Linked DNA regions of Homo sapiens: regions 1, 2, 4, 5, 6 and 7 are each reported to be linked to region 3. Evidence: microRNA targets listed by miRTarBase, many of them from high-throughput screens and not tested one by one. Region 3 holds a microRNA gene; each other region holds the end of a gene's coding sequence.
What was found. Region 3 holds the annotated microRNA hsa-miR-185-5p (UGGAGAGAAAGGCAGUUCCUGA, at 2,548-2,569, opposite strand). A microRNA usually pairs through its seed, bases 2 to 8, with sites in the 3' UTR of a target mRNA and lowers its output. Matches are read on the target gene's strand: a 7mer-m8 pairs with bases 2 to 8, a 7mer-A1 pairs with bases 2 to 7 and ends in A, and an 8mer does both.

Region 1 (4,065 bases), not on the chromosome of region 3:
CTGGGATTACAGGCACGCACCTCCACTCCCTGGCTAATTTTTGTATTTTTAGTAGAGATGGGGGGGCTTCACCATGTTGGTCAGGCTGGTCTCAAACTCCTGACCTTGTGATCCACCCGCCTCGGCCTCCCAAAGTGCTGGGATTGCAGGCGTGAGCCACCACACCTGGCCGAAAATACTGCAATACTTCTATATTGGTTGGTAAATAGCCTTTGCCCCCAGTGCCCACTCCAGCCACTCTGACGCCTGTCCGCCAGCCCACTTCAGCTCCTATGCATGGACCCCGTCCTACCAGCCAGAGTGAGTGGGGCCAGGGGAGTCATCTTTTTCCGTTGCGGGTACCCACCTGCCGCTGGCCAGCATTGCCCCAGAGGCATCCTTGGGTGGCTGCTTGTATAAACTGCAAGGTCCACAAAGTGTTGAACAAGTTGTTGAATGTTTTGGCCAACACTGCACCTGCTGTCTTCCCTACAGATTTGCAGGCTGGGAAGGCTAGACTTCCTCAGCCCGAGGGCTGCCCTTCCAAACTCTATCGGCTGATGCAGCGCTGCTGGGCCCTCAGCCCCAAGGACCGGCCCTCCTTCAGTGAGATTGCCAGCGCCCTGGGAGACAGCACCGTGGACAGCAAGCCGTGAGGAGGGAGCCCGCTCAGGATGGCCTGGGCAGGGGAGGACATCTCTAGAGGGAAGCTCACAGCATGATGGGCAAGATCCCTGTCCTCCTGGGCCCTGAGGCCCCTGCCCTAGTGCAACAGGCATTGCTGAGGTCTGAGCAGGGCCTGGCCTTTCCTCCTCTTCCTCACCCTCATCCTTTGGGAGGCTGACTTGGACCCAAACTGGGCGACTAGGGCTTTGAGCTGGGCAGTTTTCCCTGCCACCTCTTCCTCTATCAGGGACAGTGTGGGTGCCACAGGTAACCCCAATTTCTGGCCTTCAACTTCTCCCCTTGACCGGGTCCAACTCTGCCACTCATCTGCCAACTTTGCCTGGGGAGGGCTAGGCTTGGGATGAGCTGGGTTTGTGGGGAGTTCCTTAATATTCTCAAGTTCTGGGCACACAGGGTTAATGAGTCTCTTGGCCCACTGGTCCCACTTGGGGGTCTAGACCAGGATTATAGAGGACACAGCAAGTGAGTCCTCCCCACTCTGGGCTTGTGCACACTGACCCAGACCCACGTCTTCCCCACCCTTCTCTCCTTTCCTCATCCTAAGTGCCTGGCAGATGAAGGAGTTTTCAGGAGCTTTTGACACTATATAAACCGCCCTTTTTGTATGCACCACGGGCGGCTTTTATATGTAATTGCAGCGTGGGGTGGGTGGGCATGGGAGGTAGGGGTGGGCCCTGGAGATGAGGAGGGTGGGCCATCCTTACCCCACACTTTTATTGTTGTCGTTTTTTGTTTGTTTTGTTTTTTTGTTTTTGTTTTTGTTTTTACACTCGCTGCTCTCAATAAATAAGCCTTTTTTACAACCTGTTTCTGAGATTCATTCCCTGCTCTTGCTCGTGGAAGATGTTCCTTTTTCCCCCGCTGATGAGAAGGGGCCGTGTGCAGGCCGGGTGCAGTGGCTCATGCCTGTAATCCCAGCACTTTGGGAGGCTGAGGCCAGTGGATCACCTGAGGTCAGGAGTTCGAGACCAGCCTGGCCAAAAAGGTGAAACCCCTGTCTCTACTGAAAATATAAAAATTAGCTGGACATGGTGGCAGGCGCCTGTAATCCCAGCTACTTGGGAGGCTGAGGCAGGAGAATCGCTTGAACCCAGGAGATGTAGGTTGCAGTGAACCGAGATCACACCACTGCACTCCAGCCTGGGTGACAGCGAGACTCTGTCTAAAAAAAAACAAAAAAAAAAAGAGAAAAATGAAAGGGCCATGTGCCTTCATGGAGTCTGGTGGGGCTTGGACAGGATGAACCGGTGGATATTGGTTCTTCTCTCCAGTTTGCAGGGCAGGTGAGCATGCAGGCATGAAGAAGGCAAGATCACCTGTTGTCTGTGCAACCCTGTGCTGTCCTCTGACTGTCACCTAGACGGGCCTAATCCTTGTGCTCAGATGGGGAGGGTAGAAGCGTGAAGGGGAGCAAGTTAGAGTAGGATTGGAGAAGGAGTTAGTGACAGACTCAGGTCTCTGAGTCCTTTCAAGACCCTAGGAGGGAAGTGAAGTAGGTAGAACCAAGCAGAGAGACGGTGCTTAATGCCTGGATCTTGTGTCCTCACCTATCCTCTGCCTCATTCCAGTAACTTCAGCCTGGTTCACCATCCAAAAGAAACGAGTCCTGAACTCCAAAACTGCTCTAGTTCCTTTACTCCTCACCAAACTTCTGAATAATAAAAATAACAGCAGGCTGGACATGGTGGTTCACACCTGTAATCCTAATACTTTGGGAGACTGAGGCAGGAAGATCACTTGGGACCAGGAGTTTGAGACCAGCCTGGCCAACATAGTGAGACCCTGTCTCTACAAAAAATTTAAAAATTAGCCAGGTGTGGCGACATGCACTTGTAGTCCTAACTACTGAGGAGGCTGAGGCAGGAGGATCATGTGAGCCCAGAAGTTTGAGGTGGCAGTGAGCTATGATCACAACACTGCACTCCAGCCTGGGTGATCAAGTGAGACCCTGTCTCAAAAAAATAAAAAAAACAGGCCGGCTGGGCACGGTGGTTCACGCCTGTAATCCCAGTACTTTGGGACCTGAGGTGGGTGGATCCACGAGGTCAGGAGTTTGAGACCAGCCTGGCCAATATGGTGAAACCCTGTCTCTATTAAAAATACAAAAGTTAGCTGGGCGTGGTGGTGCACACCTGTAGTCCCAGCTGCTTGGGAGACTGAGGCGGCAGAATCGGTTGAACCTGGGAGGCAGAGGTTGCAGTGAGCCAAGATTGCACCACTGCACTCTAGCCTGGGCAACAGAGCAAGACTCTGTCTCAAAAAATAATAATAATAAAAGGCCACAGGAACAGTGGCTCATGCCTATAATCTCAGCACTTTAAAAGGCTGAGGTGACAGAAATGCCTGGGCAACATGGCTAGACTACACCTCTACAAAAAATTTAAAACTTAGCTGGGTGTAGGGCCGGGCACCATGGCTCACACCTGTAATCCCAGCACTTTGGGAGGCCAAGGCGGGTGGATCACAAGGTCAAAAGATAAAGACCGTCCTGGCTAACACGGTGAAACCCTGTCTCTACTAAAACAAAAAATTAGCCGGGAGTGGTGGTGGGTGCCTGTAGTGCCAGCTACTCGGGAGGCTGAGGCAGGAGAATGGCGTGAACCTGGGAGGCAGAGCTTGCAGTGAGCCGAGATCGCACCACTGCACTCCAGCCTGGGCGACAGAGTGAGACTCTGTCTCAAAAAAAAAAAAAAAAAAAAAAAGAGAGACCATCCTGGTCAACATGGTCTCTACTAAAAAAAATACAAAATTTAGCTGGGCATGGAGGCACGTGCCTGTAGTCCCAGCTACTCAGGAGGCTGAGGCAGGAGAATCGCTTGAACCTGGGAGGCAGAAGTTAAAATGAGCCGAGATCATGCCACGGTACTCCAGCCTGGAGACAGAGCGAGACTCTGTCTCAAAAAAAAAAAAAAAAATTAGCTGGGGGTAGTGGGGGTGTGCCCATGGTCTCAGCTATTCTGGAGGCTGAGGAGGGAGGATCTCTTGAACCCAGGAGGTTCTCACCACTGCACTCCAGGCTGGGTGACAGAGCAAGACCCTGTCTCAAAAAAAAAAAAAAAAAAAAAAAGAAAAGCTAATGTTTTTTGAAGACTTTATCTGCACTAGTCACTTAATGTGCATTATCTCATTTAATCTCTGCAACTACTCTGTTAGCCAGATGAGATTATTTCCATTTCACAGATTAGGAAACTGAGTCTCAAGGGAAGTCAGGTAGTTTGCCCATGGTTACACAGCTAGTAAGTGAGCCATAGTCACTGGTATACACCATGCATTACATCCTTCAGATGTGTTGAAGGGAAAATTTTTCTAGAGCAGTGTTTTTCAAACTCTGGTTTGCAACCAGCATTAAAAAAGAAAAAAAGGGAAAAAAAGAAACATAATAGGCACTATCAGAGTACG
Region 2 (4,062 bases), not on the chromosome of region 3:
GATGAGTGCCACCAATTTGAAGCAGGAAACCAGGACATAAGCTAAGCAACTTGACTCTTCTTGCTGCCTGGCAAATTAGCACCACAACTGGTAAAGAAAGGCTAAGCCTTAGAGACAGAGGCTCCTGCCTGGATCTCTAAGCAACTACACTTCACCCACACACATTGGAAGAATGTCAACATAGAGAGAAGAAAGGGTGGAACAGAAAGGTCTAAAGAGTGAGCCACATAGCTTCTTTTGGCAAACCAACACTCCCAAAGGAAACATTAGGGAAAATACTGTCTTCTACAACAAAAGAGAAGCTTTGCAGCTAGGATTATTTTCCAAAAGCAGTATTTTTAGGATGGAAAAATTGCCTAGGTCTATGGAATCTGAATTCTGATGACTAAACCTCTATCTCTCCAGGATGTAACATGTGAAAACTTAAGAAAGATCCCTGGCTGTCTCCCACCCTGCCTTCTCCCTACTTCCCAAAGCCTACAAACCAATCTAGACAAGTTCCTGACTGTACCATAAACCATTTCTCAGGGAGCTGGAATGCATTCATACTTGACTTCAACTTGCTGGAAGTGAGAGTGACAGCAGGCAGGAGGAGACAAGTATAACTGCCAGGGAAAGAGAGACCAAACCAGACTGCCAAAAATAACCAAGGCCTTAGCAGAAGCCTGGGCCACAGTATAACATCCTGCCATGGCCGGCAAAGGGCCTAGGGTCCAAATACTGCCCCTTTTTGAAAGGTTGACCCACATCTTAGATGAAGGGGCTGGAACAGTTAGGTGGCCTTCTACCCTGCTTCTTCCTTGTCTTTGTGGGGAAGGGAAGAAGACACTGTAGTACACAAGGTTGCTTGGGAAAATGGATTATTCTAATAAAACTTTATTTTTTCAAACACAGCCACAGAGGCAGAACCTCATGTTTAACACACACAGACTTATGGATTTTTCTTTTAATATAAAACAAAGTTTACGAAAATTTTTTTCCACTTTTTGTATTTGTAATCCCATTAGCACAGGGACTTTGGCAGCAGGTGGGAGTGAAGGGCAGCTGAGCTGCCACTGGGCAGTCACTGGGCACAGGAGGAGAGCACCAGCCTGGGGAGTGGCTTCACTCACACACACAGGGATACTCACCTACTGGCCAACCACACTACACACACAGCACAGATGCAGACATTGACCCAGTGTCAGCCACATGCCCTGGAGGTGTGCTCCACTCTGGGTAAGCCCAATATGTGAAAATTCAAATAGTCAAAACAGCTAAAGTGGAGGGAGGTTGCTTGCTTTACAAAAAGAAGCAATCATAGGCTGCTTTTAAATGGTCAGCAGTCCAAATGCATTGAAAAATAGCATTTGGTTTACACAGAACTGTTGGAACAGATCTACTGTGTAAAGCAAAATGAACCAATTCTTGAAAAGTGTTCCAGGGCCACAGGTTCTTAGATTGGGAAGCAAGATGACAGTTCTGACTAGCTTAGTTTTCCAGACTGAAAGTAATGGAATTAAAATAATGATAACTGTAGACCTTCTCCCCTAAGGATGGTGCCCTGGGGCTTTGGGGAAACCAGGATGGAGGCAGAATCACTGCCTCACTTCTTCAGCTTAGGGCCTACAGAAACTCACTGGCATTGCCAGTAACCTGTTGGAAGCTGGCACAGCCAATCTACAGCAGAGAGCCCTGGGATGAGGATGCCCCAGGAGGAAAAGAAATTGGCACCAGGGAAATTATGGCCTGAAGAGGGAGAAGAGCCAGGGGAGGAATGAAACCATAGATGGGCAACTCCTGGGCTCACAGTTTCCCTGGATTCTCTAGAGGGCCTCTCTCAGGCCCCTAGAGACCTGGTAGCCTAGTGGTAACTAGCCAGGAGATAGGGAGGAGCCTCTGAGGGCCAGAGGCTTAAGAAGACATAGCCACCTCCTCTCTGGAGTGGAGACGAGGAGGCTGAAGCCTCACTGATGCTCCTGACATGCAGGAGATCCAGAAAATGTCAGGTTCAATTCCATGAGGAAGAAAACACAAAGACCTTGGTCTTCCTCCCTTACATGAGGAACTGGGTCCTAGGAAACCCTGGAAATTGAAGAGAAAAATGCCCTTCTTGCCATAAACAAGGGCAGGTCAAATTTGGTCATGCAGGGTCTAACCACAGCTGGATAAAACCTCACAAGCTATTGTGGTGGCAGCTTCAGTATGTGTTTCCACTGGTGCCAGCCCTACCAAGGTACTTAAACCCATCACTGTGGCCACTTGGACCAGCTGTCCTGGCTCAAGTTGCGGGTGAGAAACAAAAAAGTAAATTCAATCCAATGACAACCAAACTCCCAACTGCTTCTCACAGCCTTTGCTTTATACATCCTCAGCCAATCCCTCAGTGAGCCCCAACCTCCCTATGGTCTCTCAGGCCCAATTAGAGGCAAATAAACACTTCCTGGCAGGAGTGGAAGACAAGCAAACTATTAAATGCTAAACACCCCTTCTTCCCTCTCAAGCAGGTCAAAAAGGCTGGGCCTGGATCTTGTAAGAATTGGTTTCCTGCAGTCACCTTCCCAACAGCAGTGCTGGGGTGAGCTCACCCATGTCTGCTGGGGACTGAATGCCACTTCTGTTGCAGGTCTGCCTCAGTAGATGCTGGGGACCAATATAGGGCCTTCCTACCTAGTCTATGACTTAGAAGGGCAGAGGGTGAGGGGAAAAGGGTCCCATCAGCAGAGGAGAGAGAGAGAGAGCCCCTCAACCCTGCTTCAGTTGCCCATGTGCTGTGTGCAACTCTACTCAAGAGGGCAAAAGAGGCAGGTGGAATATAGCCTGGACAATCTGATGAGAAAAAAAGGCCAGCTCAGAAAAAATATGGTGACACCCCCCACCTGCATTCCCCAATATACTAGATCGAGCTAGTGGGGAGGGGGTGGGGCTGAAGAAAAGATCATTAGCTGAAGTCACAGCACTTAAAACACCCTGCTGTACCCCAAAATGAAATCCTTTGCAGAGTCGGTGATGCTATGGATTACAAGCCTGGTTCCAGAGCTATTTAGAAAAAAGGAAAACTTGGTGCCCTCCTCTTGACTCCTTGAGCAAACCCAACATCCTGTAAAAAACTCAAGATCCTGGGGGTATCATGATACTCTGCTGTTAAGGAGCAATTGCCTTCCTTCCCTAAGGCTACGCAAACACACCTTTCCACAAGTACACTCCCATGCACGCACACACTCTCACGCAGTTTCTCTGAGGAGGCTGACTCAACCCCCCACCCTGGCCAAATTCTAAGACACAAGTGCCCTTTGAAGCAAAGGGGCTAGTGAAATTCCCCGAGCTGGGGTCGGCAGACCCCTTCCTTCCCTGCCCATTGCTCTCTTGGTGGCAGGGATACTCACACTCAGGGCCGCCATAGGAAGGGTCTGCTCTGGGGCTGTCCCTCCCGCCACCAGCTCCGTTTATCTTGTCCCGGCCAGTCTCTTGGCATGGTCGAGCTTGCTGGAGCGAGAAGATTTCCAGCTGCCCTGAGTCGGAGCCCTCCACTCACCCCCATTCCCAGGCTCGGCCCCCAGCCTTGGGGACTCGACACTTGTTAGTAGCCATGAGAGAGTCAGTCTGTGTGGCCCCAGGAAGTAGCCTCTCAGTTTTAGTTTTCCTCAATCAAATTCAAGTCCAGGTCCCCAAAGTCCCGCTGGCACAGTGTCCGCTTGCTCAGCGCCTGCCGACCCCACCGCACAGCCCCCTCCTCCTCCTCTTCGCTTTCACTCAGCACCTGGGAGGAACCCCCAGTGGGGCTGCAGGAAGCAGAGAGGGGTGGGGGGCTACAGGCCATGAACCATGGTGGAGAGATGCTGCTGCCTTCCCGGGCTGTTTCTTGGAGACAAAGACCTCCTGAGTATGGTTTCTGTCAAACAAACAAAGAAGACAGTTACACCTGAAGGCAAGAATTCTTTAGGGTGAGGTTTGTAAACTTTTTTTTTTTGAGACGGAGTCTCACTCTGTCACCCTGGCTGGAGTGCAGTGGCGTGATCTTGGCTCACTGCAAGCTCTGCCTCCCGGGTTCACGCCATTCTCCTGCCTCAGCCTCCCCAGTAG
Region 3 (4,065 bases):
ACTCACCTGGGATGCAGGCCCTACAGGTCCTGCTCAGCACACACACTCGCCATCCCACAGGACCCGAAGGCCCCACACACCCACAGCAGCTGGCATGGACACGTGCCGGGGACACGCTGGGTGACTGCACACTTAGCATACACCTCGTCCCCACCCAGGGACCTCTGGGGCCCAGAGCAGGCAGTTTTCCACAATGCAAACGAGTGCAGAACGGAGATTAGATTCCGAGGCCACCCAAGGGTGACACCCAAGTTCCCTGAAATGTGCACATGTGCAATGATTTAGTGACACGGCTCCAGGGCAGAGCCAGTGCTCACAGCTGGGACATGGGACAGCCAAGAAGCTGTTCAAATACTGAAGAGACCCAAAAAGATTCCTCTGAGAAAAGTCTAATGAGTGGGGACGGAGGTGAAGAGGGCTCAGTGTATGTGCCTCCATAGGCACGGGCATTAGGGATGGCCATTGGGGACCATCTGCTCCAGTGAGGAGCTGGTGGCTGTGCAGTTGAAGTATTGGGATAGCAATAAGCGCCACGTGCAGACGCACTGGGTCAGGGGGATGGGCAGCCATTTGAGATGGTCTGCTGGCCACCACTCTGCATAGGATGGGAAGCTAAAGGGTGTGTTGTTGCAAGGGGGCCCTGTGGGAAGCAGACTGTGGGGCTGGAAGTGGGTTGGGTCCCCTTGCCGGGTGCCCTGGAAGCGCCCACAGGGGGCCATCATCCGAGGGTGGGCAGGCTACTAGGGGCAATCCTTTTGGTAAAAACAACTCAAGATGCTGGATGAAATATGAAAACATCTTAAAAATTGCCAGGAGCTGATGAGCTCATGCAGCATTTGGCCAACAGTTCGGAGAGCGTGGCCCACAGAGGACAGCAGAACACAGTGGCCAATCCTGCCTGAGAGCGTTTGCCCACTGAACACACTGGGGCTCATACTCTGGTGGCCTCGGGGGCGAAGGAGACAGAAGACAAGGTCCAGTCACCCCCACAGGATGAAGAACCTAACAGAAGACTCTCCTCTAAGTTAGGCTGGGACTCCAAAGAGCGATGCTTAGGGAGAGATGAACTACAGCCGCAGCCACCCCCAGGGGTTATGGGGACATTGCACATAAGTGAAGGGAAGTTTCTGAGAAGCTGTGGCACAGCCAGCCGTCCAGGTCCACACTGGGGGTACAAGGACCCACAAGCCAAGCACAGTTTTAAGGGGTTCCAGCACTCGTAGTGCCCCTGTGCCTGAAGTTCTCTCTGGAGAAAGATACCTTCATCCTATACTTCAAAGAAGTCTCAAAATCATTTTTCAAAGACCAGAAGCAGTACATAGTCAGAAAGAACCACATAATGAAAGAAGCACCATGAGCAAGAACCAGCAGAAAGATAACCGTACATGCATCATCAACCAACCATGCTCTGATGGCAGAAAGAAAACAGACAGCTCAGAAACATCTGCAGGGCAAAGGAAGTGATGAAGAGCAAACTGGGTTTACAAAGCAGCAAAAGGAACTCGGTTTTTTTTTGTTGTTGTTGTTTTGTTTTTGCTCCTGTTGCCCAGGCTGGCTGGCATAATCTCGGCTCACCGCAACCTCCGCCCCCCGAGTTCAAGCAATTCTCCTGCCTCAGCCTCCCGAGTAGCTGGGATTACAGGCATGCGCCACCACGCCCAGCTAATTTTGTATTTTTAGTGGAGACGGGGTTTCTCCATGTTGGTCAGGCTGGTCTCCAACTCCTGACCTCAGGTGATCCACCCACCTCGGCCTCCCAAAGTGTTAGGATTACAGGCATGAGCCACCATGCCTGGCCAAAAGAACTCTTAGGAAGCTATTTTAGAAATGAAAGCTTCAGTGACTGCACATTAAAGCTCAGCTGTGGGTTTAAGAGCAATCAGGTGCAGCTGATGATGCAGAACCATCCCGAATGCAGTGCAGGAAGATGGGGAACACGCTGGGCTTTGGGAGTGCACCCAAGGTGCCACTGATGGGGTGGGCCCAGCACTCACCATGTGGCCAGAAGACACAAGTCCCTTTACTCTGGAGGAGCTGGTCTTTCCTGCACATGAGAACCCCTGGCTGCAGTCACTGGAGAAGCCCTGCCAGCTGGTCTCTACTGGAATCCCACTGGCCTGGAGCCCAGGGCTGCCCAAGGCCTGCTCACCAGGGACATGCTCCTCTGGGGTGTTAGAGAAGGCCGTTGGTCTCAATCAACTTCAGCCGACCTCAGCCCTCCCTGGGCTGCACGCCCAGCTGCTGGCAAGGCCATGGATGAGGGCAGTTCTGGCCACTGATACACGTAGGACAGACAGGCAGAAAGGCACCCCCAGTTCAGCTGCAGGACCCCACCATCCTAGCTGGCCAGGGTGCAGGGGCAGCAGACCAGCCCTCCAGGCACCAGTGGCAGGGAGGGCTCCATGGTCCAAGGGAAGGCCATAAACAGATCTCCGGACAGCCTGGCACTGGAGGTGTGGGCGCAGAGCCAAGGGCTGTGGCCTCGACGAAGACGCGGTCATTGGGAGGGAAGGACCAGAGGAAAGCCAGCCCCTGGGGAGGGGACCATCAGGAACTGCCTTTCTCTCCAATCCCTCGCCCCCTGCTCGAGCCAGGCCCACTGCCCACCGGCCCCCAACCCAGCTCTAGCCAGCAGGTCTCCCCCTCCCCCTGCCAGCTTCACCTCCCCCGACCTGTGACCTTGCCTTTGCCTGGGCCCCTGTGTGCTCCCTAAGCCAAGCCCTGCAGGTTCCCTAGGTCCTACAAGGTCCCCACACAGGCCCACCACAGCATTCCAACACCCTCTCATGCCTGCTGACTTGCCAGGCTCTGGGAGGGAGCCATGGATATAGTCCTTGTCCTTTTGGTCACCATATCTTGATCTGGGCGCAGGGCATGTGGGCACACGGGTGGCCAGGACCACTTCCCACAACTTCCACAGGTCCCATCACACCAGGTGAGGCTGGGCTCCTCAGGGCATCTCTTGTGCCACACAGAGCTCGCCCTCAAGGTTGCCCGAATTGGCCAACTCTACAGGAGGGTTGGTGTCCCAGGGAGAATCGTGCCTGGCTTTCCAGGTGAGGCTCCGCCCTGCCTGTCCCCACCCCTGCCCTGGGCTCAGCACTTGGGCCAAGCCCAACCAACTCTCAGCATGTCCTTGGCAGTCCAAGAAGGCCAGAGTGGTCAAAGCCATGCAGGGTTGGCCCTGAGGCCCAGGCGGCCAGAACCAGACCACAAAGAGCAGCTGGAGGAAGAGGCAGGCAGGAGGGTCTGGGGTCCAGTCAGCAGCCTTGCCCTGGGTCTCAGAGGCCACAGCCCAGAAGCATCTGAACATCTGCAGGAAGCCACGCCCAGTCTCTGCATCCTGCACAGGACCCCGCCTGCCCCAAGGGGCTAAGACCACCAGGGCAGCCTGCACACAACCACCAGGCTTGCAGAAGCAGTCAGATGGCCACACGCCCATCCTCTCCAGGCGGAAAATGCTTACCCCTCTCCATTCTGTCAACTGGCCTCACGGCCACCGGGATAGCAGTTGGGCAAGTAGGTTACAGGGCGGGTGGGGCAGGTGACGCAAAACCTGGCTGCCAGGGCGGGTCCAACCCCAACCGGAAGGAGGCTGGGCCAGGGCACCACAGGTGGGAAGATGCTGATGAGCTCCTCCCTGTGCTGTGTGCTCTGCAGCTGTGATCTCATCTCAAGAGTCCCAGGTCACATGGCAGGGATGGGCAAGGTGAGCCTGGAGGGGCTCATGGTGGGGCACCTGCTGGTTGGGCTAGAGGTGAAGAAGCAGTGAGCTGGCCACCCCGAGCAGGCACACGTGGGATGCTGGGATCAAGTGGGCCTGCTGGACCCTGCACCCACGGCCTGGCAGCCCCTGAGAGAGTCAGGATGGCCTCGGCACTGGATCTGTTCATTTGTAGCTCTGCTCTGCCCAGCCACGCTGTGGACACTCCTGGAAGTCAGCATGCTGCCTTCTGCTCTCTCATAGCAGGATCTGCTGATCCCCGCCAGGGTGCAAGAGGTCCCTGGGCAAGCTGGTGATGGGCAGCCAGCTTCCTCCTGGCCATGGTGGTCACTGTGTTCACA
Region 4 (4,065 bases), not on the chromosome of region 3:
CACTACATACCATATAACAAATTTCTTCCCAAAAATCACGTAGCTCTATCAAATACTTAATACTGCTAGTAAATCTCATATATTCATGCTTTTAAATCAAATAAGGGTACTATGGTCTGAACACTTTCAGAATTAAGCCATGTATGAACTGAAGTCTTACATACACATGCATACATCTGTAAAGTAATGAGAGCTACACGTAAGCAGGAGCCAATTATTCACAGATGGTCACATTTTTCCTCAGATGGTCAAATAAGGCTTATTGAGACTCTTTCAAGATCAAAATGTTAGACTGTTGGAATGAAAGCTCCAAGAAATGCAAATACTATGTCTGAACACAGCTAAGCAGGAAAATACAATTAATGCAACAGAAATACTTGAAAGTCACAGGCTTTGAGGACTTTACATTGCAATGTTCAAACTGAGCTTCTCCTTAGCCTGTTACCTTACTTTCAATTATGTCTAGCAGTCCCCAGTCCTTCAGAACTTAACAGCCACTGGAGAGAGAGAGAGAGAGAGAGAGAGTGTGTGTGTGTGTGTGTGTGTGTGTGTGTGTATATGTGTATGAGAGACAGAGACAGAGGCAGTGAGAGACAGACAGATGAGAGAGGGAGAGAGGGAAATGAATAGCCAAACACATGGAAAACTGTCCTTCTTGAAATTGGCACACTGGACCTTTCAAGTACAAAGAAAAATTTGAACGTTGCAGCTTAAAATTCAGTTAAGAGAATTAAAAAGCAAGTCATAAATGCCACATTTTTCCTCAATAAAAAGTTTTGACTACTGTGTTTATCTGTTGTCTTGAGTAACTTATTCATGAAGCTCTCCTATTCTTCCCCAAGACCATTTTGAAGAAAGAAAATACAGGTTGTTCTTGCTTTGTAAGCAAGAAAAAAAAAAATATTGTATATTTTTTTGTCCCTAGGAAGCTGCTTAGTTGGCAGCAGAAAAGAGACAGGACAGTTTGGTAAGAACAGTTAAAGAGGCACAAATGACCCTTTTGCTGAGTCTTTAGAAGAGGTATTCACTGGAGTTAACTGCTCTGACCAACCCTTAGGAAGCTTTTTAGGATTAAAAAAAAAGGGGGGGGCCTGGGAGGGGTGACTCATGCCTGTAATTCCAGTACTTTGGGAGGCCGAGGTGGGTGGATCACCTGACATCAGGAGTTCAAGACCAGCCTGGCCAAGATGGTGAAACCCCGTCTCTACTAAAAATATAAAAATTAGCCAGGTGTAGTGGCACAGACCTGTAATCTCAGCTACTCGGGAGGCTGAGGCTCAAGAATTTGCTTGAACCCAGGAGGCAGAGGCTGCAGTGAGCCAAGATCCTGCCATTGTAGACTCCAGCCTGGGTGACAAAGTGACCTTGAATATCTCCTGAGGAAGAGGAACTTGAAAAAGGAATATTCAAGGTGCTGTTCCTGGTGTTAGTTGCACCTAACGACACTCCAGCCTGGGTGACAGAGTCTCAAAAAAAAAAGAAAAGAAGAAAGAAAAGAAAAGCTGGTCCTTGAGTTCACTTTGTTAACAAGGCAGATAAAACAATTTCTATGCATCTCTCCCACCCCATCCCATTTTTGGCAGAATATAACAAGAACAAAAAGTAATGGACTTCACAGGTTTAAGAAAAGGAATATATGCCATTGTTTTCTTAGTTTTTTTTTTAAGTTTTCAAATTTTAATATGGGTTTTTAAACGTATTATAAACTTCTGTGGGGCTTTTAAAAACCTGTACCTAGGCCAAGCACGGTGGCTCATGCCTGTAATCCTGGCACTTTGGGAGGCCGAGGCAGGTGGATCACGAGGTCAGGAGATCAAGACCATCCTGGCTAACACGGTGAAACCCCGTCTCTACTAAAAGTACCAAAAATTAGCCAGGTGTGGTGGCACGTGCCTGTAGTCCCAGCTACACAGGAGGCTGAGGCAGGAGAATCACTTGAACCCGGGAGGTGGAGCTTGCAGTGAGCTGAGATCACGCCACTGCACTCCAGCCTGGGCAACAGAGCCAGACTCCATCTATTAAAAAAAAAAAAAAAAAAAAAACCCTACCTATATCAAGTTCTTCTATGCTTTAGCAGGTCTCAGGTCTCAATTTCCCATTTTCAGATGGCAGGCCTGTTTTTAAAGGACCAATTCATACTTTAAAATATGTGTACACACACACACACATACTTACACACACAGAGACATACAGAAAGACTATATATTTTTTGAAGCACCATTTCACATCTACCAACAAGAAAAATAACAAATTCATATTCTCATTATAATTCTGTTATGAAGGATAATAATGAAATATACAATGCCATATTTAAAATATAAATGCTATCAGTAAATGAAAATACTGACAGAGCTTAAATCTCTGTTCAGAAATATTTTTAAAGTAAGGCTCAAATAAACGTGTAGATTACAAACACTATTTCCTGATCAATCCTAATATTTAAATGAATGCAAAAGAATTTATTTCAAGACCAAATAAATAGAATGAAGAGAGAATACTAAATTAAACTCAGCTGATGAAACATCCATTGTTAACTGCACCCATGCAAAACTCCACAATACAACTAACTGCTTTTACCCTTATGACCCGATGCAAAATGCAAGCACAAAACGGAGAATATGTATGTACTTAACTTTTTAGCTTTCTATATTTACGGCTAAATAATTGTCTAAGGAAGACCTTTGCTTTAAATAATCTTGGCACATTAAAGGGTAACACAGCTCCCTAATTTGAAGAACAAGACATAAAATTCAGATAATTTATGCATTGTTATAATTTAGAAAGAAGCCTGTATCTAAACCAAACTTTGAGAATAAAGGCTGATTGCTTTTATTTATTTGCTAACTGCTTGACTTTAACTACGGACATTAAACTCAACATCAGTTCAACATCTGTCATAGGTAAGAAGCTGTTCTAGATGCTGACATTAGCCAGCACTTGATTATGAGCCACTGTGTTTTATCAAGCTGCCTATATTTTTCAGTAGCAACTTACCTACATATTCCATAAGTTATCAACAATCAAGTTTAAAGTCTAGGCTCCCTCCTACTACCCAGTACATGACAAGATGATCTCCCCCAATTTCCAGCTAATTAGTATTTAGGAAATATCAACTTGGAAATGTAAATCTACTTGGAAAATAAAAAAGTACACCATGCAGTTGAAAACGAAAGATAACTTGTTTTCTGACAACCCAGTATCTGCATCTGACATGGCTTCCCTACATTCAGAAGATAACTGAAAACTGATTATACAGACACACACACACAATCCTTCTCTTCATGTACATGTCTGTGCACATGCACGCACAAATACATTTGTAATCTCACTCATTACCTTTACATTTTGTTTATCAGTATTTAAACAGCTGAACTGCAATCATGACCTAGAATATGGCTTATGTTATGGGCAGGTCTGTTTGAGGACTGCTTGGAAGAGTCAGAGGCAGAGGAATTTGCTATTGTAAGCAAAGGTGACATTGCTGAGCCATCAGGAAGCGCTGTGGCTATTTCTGGAAACAAAGATGTCATATTAAAATTGGATAAGTGAGAGTTGGTCATGTGCATTGGTGGCATATCTGGGAGAAGAGGAAAACTTGGTTGAGCAAACCCAACAGGTCTGGGAGGAGATAAAATTGATCCAAATCGGTTATTTAAACTTCCACTGTTTACCTTCTCTGTGCTAGGATTTGAGAACATCTGATTAGGAAAATAGGGGATTGAAATATCATTGGACAGTGTAGGATGAGCAGGAGAGTATGGAGGATAGAAGGAGGGCAGAGTATTTTGCGGATCTACCGGGATGAGGGCTGGAGTTCGAGTGGCACTAGGCTGAGTAACCTGTGGAATGAAAGAAGCATTAGCATTTATTGGTGGATTCATGCCACCCTCAGGAATAAAAGAAAAACCAAAATTTTGTGATAGTGTATGCTGGTCAGGACCTGAATTATCATTAGGTACTTGTGGGCTATCAGGCATGAAACGAACAATACTTCCTCTCTTCTCTGTGGCAGGTTGTTGACGTCCAAGAATCATACTGCCACCAGTAGAGAGAGGAAGATGGGGA
Region 5 (4,065 bases), not on the chromosome of region 3:
CTGAGCCTCAGTCTCCCGTCTGTAAAATGGTAGGCAGGCAGTCGGGCCACAGCTTATTCTGTAGCTGAGCCTTGAGGCTGAGAAATGAAACCTGCATCTTAAAGAATGCTACGTTCTTTCTTCCCCGACTCATCTCTGCACTATAAAGTTTAATGTTAATAACATGATGACTAAGTCACGGATCATGTCCTGTAGGGAAAATGAATTGGAGTATGACGCCAAAAGCCCTATGCCAGGTACTTACTAGCCATTATTTATCTAAGCAGCCTTTGGAAATCAAGATTATCTCCACCATTTTGCCAATGAAAAAACTGAAGTTCAACAAGACTGCTTTTGAAGGTTATGAAGAAAACCCAGACTTTCCTGCCTACACTGGGTGCGGTGGCTCAAGCCTATAATCCCAGCACTTTGGGAGGCCGAGGTGGGTGGATTGCCTGAGCTCAGGAGTTCAAGACCAGCCTGAGCAATACGGTAAAACCCCGTCTCTACTAAAATACAAAAAATTAGCCAGGCATGGTAGTGGTGTGCACCTGTAGTCCCAGCTACTTGGGAGGCTGAGGCAGGAGAATTGCTTGAACTGGGAGGCAGAGGTTGCAGTGAGCTGAGATCACACCACTGCACTCCAACCTGGGCAACAGAGTGAGACTCTGTCTCCAAAAACAAACAAATAAAAAAAGCCTTTCCTGCCTAAAGTCCACGTTCCTTCCAGTACCCGCACTGTTTGTCTAGAAGCCAGTTTCTAGCACGAGACCCGGGAACAGCTCAGCACGATGTCCGGTCACAGCACTTGACACTTGAGCTAGGCGGTGGGAGCAGAGGTCGGATGTCCGAGATCTGCTGGGGCTGAACTGAACACCTGTTGAATCATGCTTGTCTAGTAACAGCAAAGTCACCAGAATGCAGAGAATGAGCATCCATCACTTTGCAGGTTCGGAGGACCCGGCATGTGACGGGCAGCAGTACTCTTCCTGCTCTGCAAAAGAGCCCCTACATGTGGCATTTAAGGGCTTTCTGCCCCCTCCTCTGCCCAGGCTTGCTATCACGTCTCCTGGGTCTCCTGGGATCTAGTCTAGAACATTCCAGGGGGCACTGCCCACCTTCCCTAAAAGCTGTGGGATCTTATGCTGAAGCCTCTGCCTGCTAATTGACTCCGGCTTTTCCTTCTATCCCTCATGAGAACCATGGGCCAGGGCTGAGGCTGAACACATGGAATTGGGCACGGGTCCCCATCGAGAGCTCCAGAAAGCCCAGGCTGCATCTTGCTCAGCCTGGCTGGACGCAGAAGGTGTGTTTGTTCTTAAGATATCCTAATACATAACAAGCAATGTGCTCTTCACAGAAACAGCTGCAGTGAAAAAAAAAAAAGATCACACAGCACTAGAGCCCATCTTGGGAGGTGACCTCAGGTCTCACACCTCAGTATCTCCAGATCCCCAATGCTAAATGTACCCCATCAGGGCGTTTGAGACTTTCCATCAAGGAGAATTTAGCTATATAAATTTAACATTATAGATTTAACTACACAAAACAGAGAAGTCAGCTGTTTGTCTAAGCTTTCAATGACAGATATTTTAATTGTGGAATTTTTAAAGCAAACAAAGCAATGGAAACTTCATTTTTATTCTAGACCAGTCTATCCCAGACATGCTGATTATGGTTGGCTGTGCTGAGTCCTCATTTACCGTATGAAATGCAAATGTCTGTCAATTGCAATGCCTGGGGCCAAGCCAGGCCAGTGGACTTGTGTGCAGTTCCCACCGGAGCCAGGAGCTGCTCAGACAGCAGACCCAGCCCAGTCCACTGGGTTTTGCAAACACAGGCTCCCTCTGCAGCAGCATGGGCTTGTGGAAGGGAGGCATGCCGCCGCCAGCATGCATGCCAGGGGTCCGGGGTTCTCCCCGTGTCTGCAGAGGTGAGGGGTACAAAGTGAGCTGGAAACAAAACACTGTGTTCCCCCTTGGCCTTGAAGAAGTGCCTCAACCAACTCCTCGCCAGCTGCAGAGTACTCAATCTCCTCACAGAAAGAATGTGTACAAAAAAACTAGAAGCTTTTCTTTTTCCCAAATGGCTGTTGAATTTATTTGCTTGATCAATAATGGTCCTGGCAAAAATTAGTTAACCAATGCTGAGACATTTGTAATGAAATACTAATTTTAAAAATCCATGACACCTTGATAGAAATTAGAGTTTACACAAACAAAAAAGGAACCTTCGATATTGCCAGCAGCTATAAAGTGAACGTACTGAGACCGACAGGACAGCAAGAAGGCATTTGCACATTTATATCTGACACCCGACCATACTTTCAGTCACCAGAATATCTTCTCTCCAGATTTAAAAAAATAGTATGCTGATTTCTATAACAAAGCTTTTTTTCGTACAAAAATCAAATAATGGCCAACGAGTCACAACAGTGCAATAGGTAGAGGATTAAAAACTGCATCAAACAGGTGCTGAAAATAAATACTACCTAGGAGAAGGAGGTGAGAGCCCTCGTGTGGGGTTTGTTTTCGACCCCTTGAGTGTGTGTGGGGTTTGTCTTCCGAGCCACGAGCCTGGCCTGTCTCGCGGTGCTGTTCACTCTGACAGAGTGCGCCTGCAGCACGTTGCCTCCAGGGCCCAGCCTCCCAGAAGCCTCAGAGCATCAGAGCATCCGTCTCATCGGATGGACCAGAAACAAGAAAATGGGGTGGGGTGAATCACAGCTATCATTCAAAGGAAAGGAATTTTTTTCTATTGCTCAATCTTGTCAATTGGGAGTCCACCAGTAGGTTCACTGAGATGATATGGATAATTTCAAACTTTTGTTTAAGAGCATATATATGGCTTATTCAGGCAAGGAGACGTGTACATTCTAGCCCAAGCAAGCAATCGGAGTCATTCTGTTTTTAAGGAAGGTCAGTCGTTTAAAAGATTTCTGGTTTGAACAACATCCTCTGTGGATGCACCAGGCCAAGGTGACTACCTTTGACCAACCCAGTGAGAAGGCCTTTGCTGGTCCCCGCAGTGAGGAACTGGCAGGAACGGGCAGCCTCCTCCCCGCTGGACTGCACTGCCGGGGGCCGGTGGGCAGGCTCCACAGGCAGCCCCTGTCTGTGGCCAGACAGGCCGTCCTGGTGACTCGGGCTTATAGACTGTGGTTTAGAACTGCAGAAGGAGAGAGGAGAGTGGGCCAGGGAACACCCACCAGGCGCTGCTCTGACCAGTCAGAGAACGTGAGGCAGCTCCCCCATAGGGATCTGCACCGAGAAGGTGTGGAAGGCACAAGCAAGAGTGACGGTACCAGAGATCCCAGAGGGCGTGGCTCGCGGCGGCCACAGCAGGCGCAGCGCTGACCTGGGGTGGTTCCCCCCTTGAATGAGAAAGAGATCCTGATTCTGCTGTGATAAAAAAGCAAAGAAAGACGGTTTTTGGTTTAAAAAGAAGCCACTCAAGGGTTAAAATAGTTATTTTAAGTTAACAAAGAAAATTAATCTTCAAATAAGCTGACACTATCTGGAAAACTCATCTGTCCCTAAAGCCCACAATGCGTCCACTGCTTCGTCCTCCCATGGAACCTGAGCCTGACGTGAAGGAGTCAGACGTGTGACAGAGGAAGAGTCTGAGAAGAGAAGACACCTTTACAGAATGTACAGCGAGAGAGCCGGCCTGGCCCCCGGGTTACAGTAAGATGCACGGGTCCTTTCAGTCTCACGGACTCCAGACGGCCACGCAGGCTGCTCAGATGGACGTCTCCTTCCTATCCCTGCTGGGCGATGGCTTTGCCGGCTCCTTGCCTGCCTTTGGCTGCTCTTTAGCTGCTTTTGGCTCAAGGACGCCGTCTCTGGGCGGCTGGACGGCACCCCCGCGCCACTCAGGCTCCTCGTCCTCCTGCGCCTGCTGCTCGGCCTTGGCTCGCTGCATCTGGAGCAGCCGCAGCTGCACGCGCAGCTCGATGATGGCCTCGCGCTCCTCATGAATTGCTTGATTCAAATGATTGTTCTTTATCTTGGGGAATGACAGAAAGGGCAGTTATCACTTAAGGAAGTCAGAGGACGATTTCTCAGGAGCAGAGCGCGGTTAGCA
Region 6 (4,065 bases), not on the chromosome of region 3:
CATCTTTACAAAAGAAAGAAAGAAACTATTTGCTCTTGGGCATTTTGCCTCCAATTAGGATGTGCTGCCATCAGGTAGCCTATGGTGATGCCTTGGTTGTGAACCTATAGTGCCAAGGTCAGGTTTTAGACATAGGAAAAGTTAACAGAAAACATGAAATGGCTTTTACGCTCAGTTGACCCATCATTTTATTTAAACTATGAAACACAGGAATAGAGGCCAGCACTCTATAAGACAAAACGTGATGTAGCTTATGATTTATGTAAATGTAGCTACAACATAATGTCAGTCATTCCCATCAGTAGGGCGATTTAGGTTATCCCCTCCCCCATCTCCCCCATTGCATTGCCTCAAGAGAAGCTATCCTGCCAGGCCCTCCTCCAGCGGCCAGGACAGCCACTGGGAGAGGGATGGCATCCCCATCCCCCTCACCCACTAACCCCGCCAGAACAGGCCTCCTCTGACTCAGATCTGGGGCTAGGGAGGAGAGGGGCAGAGGAGAAGCAAAGCCCATTCTGACTTTGTCTTTCTGTCCTTCATTGTTTCAAAAGGCAACAGATTCCGGAAAAAAGCCAGAAGAAGAAGAAGAAAACCAAATGGCGGGGAGACCGGGCCACAGGCACCCACAAACTGCAATGTGTGATCTTGTGACAGGCCTGAGGCCCTGGGCACAGTGACGGTGGCCTGGCCAGCCCTCGGGACCCCTCCCCACCTAACTGCACTGAAACCATTTCTAACCACAACCCTTGGCCCAAGGACTTGGTACAGGAAGGGAGAAGGGCAGGTGGGCAGGGAGCAGACAGGGTCTGGCTTTGCCCAGAGGGCACGGGCTTTCCCACCTCTCAAAGAGACAAGGAAGCCACCTGTAAGCAGAAGCAGCATCCAAGTGCCCCTGGCCCCCCCATGTGTTGATTCAACCCGGTTCCTCCCCCTCTCTCGGTGGGTGTGTTGTTTATTGTAACTACATAGTGTTGGTTTGATGTGGAAGTGTTTATCCACATACAAAGTACAAAACAAGCCATGAACAAGCTTCTTTCCCTTACCCCCCATCCACAATGTCTGAGCTTGGATGTCTTTTATAGATTTTTAAATTATTTTAGTGATTATTATTTTATTAAAGGGGTCTGGGCTCACTGCCTGGTGAAGTTTCAAGTGTTCAGCAGACCTCTCTGGTAACATATCTGGAATATTGTTGTTGTTTTTTAACCGAGTTTTCCCATCAGTGCCAAAACTCAACTCAATCTGAAAGTAGAGTGTCTGAGAGGACAGAAGGTAATGGGAACTGTAGCTGGAGGCCTCAGGCCATGGGTCAAACCTGGGAGGGAAAGAGACCCTACACATGGCCTAGAAATGAGAGAAGAGAGAGGTATTTACCCAGAGGATTTTCCTATGGTTGGGGATGCAAATATTAGAAAACAGATTGTATTTTGCTGAGGGGAGTGGCTGTCATGAGCATGTCAGTTCTAAAAGGGGTTTTCATTATCCTGGAAATGTATAAACTAAAGTAAGCTGATTGGCTTTGCAAACATGTTCATTTGTTTTTCAGACAGTATGGGTTAAGTTCTCTGCCCTCCCCAGGGGTCTGAGGAGGCTCTGGGTTTCTCAGATCTGTCTCTTGCTGCGTTTTCACATCAGCTGTGCTGCTTGGTGCCTCTCTGATACGAATACACTGACACGTCAAAGTAACCTAATGTGGACACCATCCAGAAAACTCCAGTTCATGCTGGATCTTAACCAAAAATGATTCAATACTGTTATCACTAAAACAGCACCAAGACCTGAAGCCATCTTCCCTTGGAGTCAACTGACTACCACCTCTATAAGCCTAGTCAATGAGCAGACCCCTTCCAGTATTTGTAAAAGTAGTACTAGGTTGCCTTTTTGGCAATTTTTATTGACCTGTTGAATCTTGACTATAAAATGATCTGAGAAGTAAGGAAGGCTGGGCTGATGTGTGGCTCTCATATACCTTCTGCAAGGGGGCAGTCTCCCCAGCTCCCTGATGATGCTCACCCCCGCCCCCCCACCTCAGGTGCTGCTGGTGTGAGCCAAAGACTGGAGTTTTTCCAGCTGGGGTGGGAGTGGAGAGACAACAGGAACAACGCTGCACCAAAGAAAAGGTCAGAATAAAAGGCAGCACAGCTGGTGACCTTATTTTCTAGATGTTACAAATCAGGTCACTATGCAAACTAGAATATCCTCAGCAGGTGGCCTGGCCACTCTGGAGAAAGAAACCCAAGGAAAGTGAGCACCCAACTGGATGCCAAGACACCCGGGTTCTGAAAATGTGCTGTGTTCCTACCTCGGCAAGATCACCAGCACTGAGGGGCCCAGCTGGAGAATGATTCTGCTACAAAAGGAGACAGTTGAGACTTTTGCTTGTTGGAAATCAAACTTCTTATTTGTCTAAATTGCCCCTTTTTCTGTTCCTAAAAGGAAGGATAAGAGAGAACATTCCAGGTGAGGCACTTCAAAGTTTCCTTAGACCCTATAGTGTTAAGAGGTATTTTAAACACTAAAAGGACAAAGCTCTTCCCAATCCTTATGCTTCCCTAAGTGGTATCTGCAGCAGTTTGTTGTGTGCAGTTTGATGGCAGCTGCAAACTGGAGGTGAGGCGGAGGAAAGGCAGGTAGGAAGGAGTAAGGATGGAGATGCTCAGAATCAAGAGCATGGCGGAGTAGGAGAAGAAGCCCTGCACACAGGGCAGTGTCCACAGCCAGAAAACTCCTGCTGGGCACCAACCACTACGAGCATACCCCATGCCCACCGTGGAGCTGCAACTCCTCGACAGCACTGAGTTTGATAGTCTCACTGGAAGCAGATCAGCTGATGTAGAACAGAGACCTCGGCCATAAAGGTGAGAAGACATAGGGATTTCAACCACACAGTTGGGACAGAAGGGACAGTGCATCTGTTCATCCATCCTGCACTTGGCCCACGTTGAACTCCATGGTGCCTGAGAGAGACTAGTTAAGGGTTGGTCTTCTGTATCCTCTGCTGTTGAGCCTCTGGTAAGCTTTCATCTCCCATGAACTCATTTCCCCATAAATGAAATGGGTAAATAATGCCCCATTTGTAGAAGTGGGCCCTCATGACTGAGGTAGCTTCCAGATAGGCCAGAGTAGAGTGTAGAGTGTGCCCCGTGACATCCCTCCATCTTCTCCTCCATTATCATCTAGCAGGGTCAGACTGGGAAACCTGGTTGGCCACGCCACACCATGACCGAGGAGCCAACTGGGACTTCTGGCTGTTTGACATCCTCATGTTCCCGTTGGTCTTCCGGAGAATAGTGCTACCCTCACATCCCCTGGAGCACAGCCTTCCTGAAATGCCCTCACCCCATGCCTTTGCCATTGTGTGCTCTCAGATTTCTTCCACTGTTTGACACCCTCCTTAGAGGGCTGCTCTTTTTTTTCCAGAGATAATCCTAGCCATCCTCTCCACTCCCACGGCTGGGGACAATGGCCACTTACTACCTGTGCACTTTGCCACTCGGGACACCTGGATGGTTTCTCTTAGGACTTTGCCCACCTCCTTCTCATGGCACTTGCTGTGGAAAATGCCTGGCTGGCCTCGTGGGGCCTGTCTCACTTTTCCAGGAGACATGACCCACTAACGTGGCAACTTTAACCCAAAGGCCCCTCAGACATGTTACAGCAAATCTGGAGCCACAGACAGGTTCCCTCCATTGGCAGCCCATTGTGTTTGAAATTCCATGTCGGGTTTACTTGGAATGAAAGATACTTGAATTATTGTGCGCCTGTGAGCGCCCAGCTTCTGTTTCATAGTCTTAACAGGTGGCCATTGTCGTGAAACGAGTGATGCCTGAAGATCTCAGTGATGTTTGAACCTTCTGTGTAACTTTTTATTAAGTCTTTGTATCTCTCGACTGATTAATAAAGAAGAGAAACACGTATCTGTCTTAGTTCCTTTTACTCCAGTATTCCTGAAGTTTTGCTGAGAACATTGTGAGTTGTTGGTGTTTTGCCCAGAACATCCACGTCTTACAGAGCATGACCTTGGTGCTAACCAGATCTGAAGTAAGGAGGAGCCCACTGGTGGCC
Region 7 (4,065 bases), not on the chromosome of region 3:
AAATAGCCAGGTGCAGTGGCTCACGCCTGTAATCCCAAAACTTTGAGAGGCCAATGTGGATGGATTGCTTGAGCTCAGGAGTTTGAGACCAGCCTGGGCAACATGGCAAAACTGTCTCTACAAAAAATACAAAAATTAAATTAGCTGGGCATGGTGGCATGTGCCTGTGGTCCCAGCTACTCGGGTGATGAGGTGAGAGAGGTGGAGGTTGCAGTGAGCCAAGATCGCACCACTGCCAGACCCCGTCCCAAAAAAAAAAAAAAAGGCCGGGCACCGTGGCTCACGCCTGTAATCCCAGCACTTTGGGAGGCTGAGGTAGGCAGATCACGAGGTTGAGATTGAGACCATCCTGGCCAATATGGTGAAAACCCATCTCTACTAAAAATAGATAAAAATTAGCTGGGCATGGTGGCCCACGCCTGTAGTCCCAGCTACTCAGGAGGCTGAGGCAGGAGAATTGCTTGAACCAGGGAGGTGGAGGTTGCAGTGAGCCAATTGTGCCACTGCACTCCAGCCTGGTGACAGAGCCAGAGTCCGTCTCAAAAAAAAAAAAAAAAGTTTTTTAAAAAAGGAAAAATAATCTTGCTTTTTCTTAAATTTTTTTTTTTTTGATGGGGGATCTCTTTGTTGCTCAGGCTGGTCTTGAACTTCTGGGCTCAAGTGATACTCCCACCTTGGCCTCCGAAAGTGTTGGGATTACAGGCATAAACCACCATGCCCAGGCTCCTTTAAAAAAAAATTTTTTTTTAAAAGAGAGGGAGTCTCACCCTGTCACCCAGGATGGACTGCAGCGGCACAATCATAGCTCGCTGCAGCCTTGAACTCCTGGTCCCGAGAATTTCTCCCGATTCAGCTTCCCGGGCACATGCCACCATACCAGGCTAATTTGTAAAATTTTTTTGTAGAGACAGGGTCTATGTTGCCCAGGTTGGTTTTGAATTCCTGGCCTCAATCCACCCTCCAGCCTTGGCCTCCCAAAGTGTTGGGATTATAGGTGCGAGCCACCACACTTGACCCTTTTTCTTCTTATAAAACAACTGAGTGCCAATCTCTTCTAATTGCAAAATGAAAAAAAAAAAAAAAAAAAAAAAAAATCACTGCACAGAGCTCCCTCTAGTGTTGTGACATTACTGCAATGTAAGCCATTTAATGCTCCTGTAAGCTTTACAGGTTTATCCACATTCAATACATTAATATATTAAGCTTTCATTTGGTATTTAATGTTTATTCTCTACCGGACATCATGGTCCTAATTATATGGTATCTTATAATGTGAACAGCTACTATCTTTGAATGTATATTATATCCCAAATAACAGGGCATAGTGTAAACAGCTTCTTTCAACAATGTGCTGCTATCCAATTCAGTTCACATTTATTACATGCACAAAGCTAATGAAATGCTAATGAAGTAAACAGTTTAATGTATCTGACAATTGTGTTAACTTCTTTGTTCTCCTTATTTATGAATTTAAGAAAATGGCAATGTGAGGCAATCTGATTCCAACAAAAATGGCCTGAATATGTCAGGCAGGCAACTTTCTAAGAGTATCAACCGAGATATATTCTAGGATGTACACAGGCATAATTCCTTCAGATATGAAATGTGATACTGGTTAACTGTGATTACAACACTAATATCATTAACAGGCTAAGTCACTTTTCCTGTCCCATATATTGTCAATAGGTCATGGAAAAAGGATTCCCTGGTAAAGTAAGGTTAGGATATACTGGGTTAAACCAAACTAATCTGCTTTCCTCTCAGAATCTCTGGTATGCTAATGTACATTGTGAATCTCCAGTGCAGGACAGTTTGAAGCTTTTCCCCAACTTACTTGACTATGGAATTACTTTTTCACTCAGAATATCTAATGACATCTAAGGAAGCTAATGTTCAGTAGAACAGAGTTTGGGAAATGATGATCTAATCCAAAGTTGCACCAGCTCCTTCGCTCTCATTGCAAATCTCTACCCTTGAATCGACATCCCTTCTCTGCACTTCCAGTATATCTTTCCCATTTGATAAGCCCTGGCTTTGTTCTAAGATCTCAGTGTTCTGGAATCTCAAATGCCCTGTAATCTAGGCTTTTTTTTTCTTTTTTTTTTTTTAAAAGCAAGTGGCTTCACAGTTTATGACATCATACAAGGTATCAATCTCCTTATACTCCAAACAAATCATTTCATTCTTAATGAAATAGGAGATGCTTTCAGTCTTTCACAGACCTTATCTAAGGACTCACAGGGAATGCAGCCTGAACCCTAGCTGGTAGACAAATAATAGCCTTAAGTTTAGACTTAGCTAAAAAATCAGACTACCTCAATCACCCCCAATGAAAGTAAAGGCCAAAAGGAAAGCACAATCAGACGCTGGGAAACTTAGCTTGGAAATGCATTTGGAATTATACTGCAGTGTGATGGTACCCAGTCCTAGTGTGAAGTGAGGAAAAGGAGACGAGTGAGTAAGGCACAGAGGCAACAGAGAAAAAGGCAGCTTTTTGAATCCTCTCTAGTTGAATCCTCCCAGTACCAGCTTCAGTAATTGGTTAGAACCAGTTTTATTCCTAACAAACATAGAACACCCTAAACTAAATGTGAGTAAGGCACGGAGGCAACAGAGAAAAAGGCAGCTTTTTGAATCCTCTCTAGTTGAATCCTCCCAGTACCAGCTTCAGTAATTGGTTAGAACCAGTTTTATTCCTAACAAACATAGAACACCCCAAACTAAATGTGAATGATTAAAAAATCTATTTTGGATTATCTACTCTTCATTATGATTCAGGATAATTAAGAACAGTATATCTATTTCAGTTCGGGTACATAATACTTCTTTAAACTGCAGAGCGATCTGTTTTCTCAAGTTATTTTGGGCCGGGTGCGGTGGCTCACGCCTGTAATCCCAACACTCCGGGAGGCTGAGGCGGGCGGATCACGAGGTCAGGAGATCGAGACCATCCTGGCCAACATGGTGAAAGCCCGTCTCTACTAAAAATACAAAAAATTAGCCAGGCGTGGTGGCGGGCACCTGTAGTCCCAGCTACTTGGGAGGCTGAGGCAGGAGAATGGTGTAAACCCGGGAGGTGGAGCTTGCAGTGAGCCAAGATCACGCCACTGCACTCCAGCCTGGGTGACAGAGCCAGACTCCATCTCAAAAAAAAAAAAAAAAGTTATTTTGATACTTTCTCCCTGGAGCTAAATTCAAGAGCAAATCCCTTCAAAACATGATAATGCATTTTTAGAGATAGCAATGTTGGAATATTAAATAAGTAAAAAACAACCAAGTGAATCAAGGCCTACCTTATTTTATATCATTGAATTTGTAAATTCTCTTAATAAAGCTGCATATATTCACAACTCAGTAATTTAAATTTATAATAGAAATTTATAACCCAACTAAAAGAAATCCATTGCCATATAACTAAAATTATGTAATCATTTATTTATAAAATAACAAAAATTTATGAATAGATCTGTTTATTGTACTGTGAAAAGGGTCTTGGTACATGAAACATTATATACTTTGAGGACAGCATTCAGAACTGTTAAGACAAAAGACAAACTATAATTTTAAACTCAATCTTGATTTAAGGGAAAGGCTATAAATTATTGGCTGAAAAGTATTCAGCATGAACTCAGATTCTATATAAGCATGAAAGAGTACAAAAGATGTTGGAGTCCAGTAAGCCCATACCTAAATTAACTGTAAAGCTTCAAGGACTTTTTGTTTATTTTTATATACTAGTTTTCTTCTGTGACAAGTTGATTTTATCTCCAAGACTTAAGGCCATTCCCTGTAAAGAAAAATTAAGATATTTATAATTATTTAAACTATGTACAATCAGTAGGTTATTCCATATTATTAAGCCCCAATTCAATTCAATGACACCATTATCAACAATAAAATCAAGGACATACCAAACAGACTTACCAAACTTTACTGGTAATTACCTTTCAGTGCTAGATTTTTCAAGCCGTCACCAGATTTTTTTTTTTTTTTTTTTTTTTGAGACGAAGTCTCATTCTGTCACCCAGGTTGGAGTGAAATGGCACAATCTCAGCTCACTGCAAC

Region 1: miRTarBase lists PTK7 as a target of hsa-miR-185-5p. Seed matches in the 3' UTR shown: 7mer-m8 at 1,189-1,195.
Region 2: miRTarBase lists FAM53C as a target of hsa-miR-185-5p. Seed matches in the 3' UTR shown: 7mer-m8 at 2,705-2,711.
Region 4: miRTarBase lists USF3 as a target of hsa-miR-185-5p. Seed matches in the 3' UTR shown: 7mer-m8 at 611-617 and 8mer at 499-506.
Region 5: miRTarBase lists RALBP1 as a target of hsa-miR-185-5p. Seed matches in the 3' UTR shown: 7mer-m8 at 3,156-3,162.
Region 6: miRTarBase lists MRAS as a target of hsa-miR-185-5p. Seed matches in the 3' UTR shown: 7mer-A1 at 3,438-3,444.
Region 7: the mRNA of COPB1 is a reported target of hsa-miR-185-5p. The part of its 3' UTR that is shown has no 7-base or 8-base seed match.

What each region holds. Positions count from the first base shown.
Region 1 is chr6:43,160,247-43,164,311 of GRCh38, forward strand. PTK7 (protein tyrosine kinase 7 (inactive)) reads left to right here. Exons shown (of 20, transcript NM_002821.5): 20 at 475-1,469. The coding sequence ends at 635. Among named protein-coding and RNA genes, the nearest start is that of SRF, 9.0 kb to the right of the region's middle.
Region 2 is chr5:138,346,511-138,350,572 of GRCh38, reverse strand. It overlaps FAM53C (family with sequence similarity 53 member C), which reads right to left. Exons shown (of 5, transcript NM_016605.3): 5 at 844-3,871. The coding sequence ends at 3,614. Among named protein-coding and RNA genes, the nearest start is that of KDM3B, 4.1 kb to the left of the region's middle.
Region 3 is chr22:20,031,657-20,035,721 of GRCh38, reverse strand. It overlaps MIR185 (microRNA 185), which reads right to left and starts at 2,583; the gene lies at 2,502-2,583. All of the region lies in intron 1 of TANGO2 (transport and golgi organization 2 homolog), which reads right to left. RefSeq lists enhancers at 1,466-1,535, 3,219-3,438, 3,873-4,065.
Region 4 is chr3:113,651,585-113,655,649 of GRCh38, forward strand. It overlaps USF3 (upstream transcription factor family member 3), which reads right to left. Exons shown (of 7, transcript NM_001009899.4): 7 at 1-4,065. The coding sequence ends at 3,360. Among named protein-coding and RNA genes, the nearest start is that of USF3, 43 kb to the right of the region's middle.
Region 5 is chr18:9,535,593-9,539,657 of GRCh38, reverse strand. It overlaps RALBP1 (ralA binding protein 1), which reads right to left. Exons shown (of 10, transcript NM_006788.4): 10 at 1,544-3,987. The coding sequence ends at 3,721. Among named protein-coding and RNA genes, the nearest start is that of RALBP1, 62 kb to the right of the region's middle.
Region 6 is chr3:138,401,619-138,405,683 of GRCh38, forward strand. It overlaps MRAS (muscle RAS oncogene homolog), which reads left to right. Exons shown (of 6, transcript NM_001085049.3): 6 at 552-3,915. The coding sequence ends at 651. Among named protein-coding and RNA genes, the nearest start is that of ESYT3, 31 kb to the right of the region's middle.
Region 7 is chr11:14,454,097-14,458,161 of GRCh38, forward strand. COPB1 (coat protein complex I subunit beta 1) reads right to left here. Exons shown (of 22, transcript NM_001144061.2): 22 at 3,416-3,787. The coding sequence ends at 3,728. Among named protein-coding and RNA genes, the nearest start is that of COPB1, 44 kb to the right of the region's middle.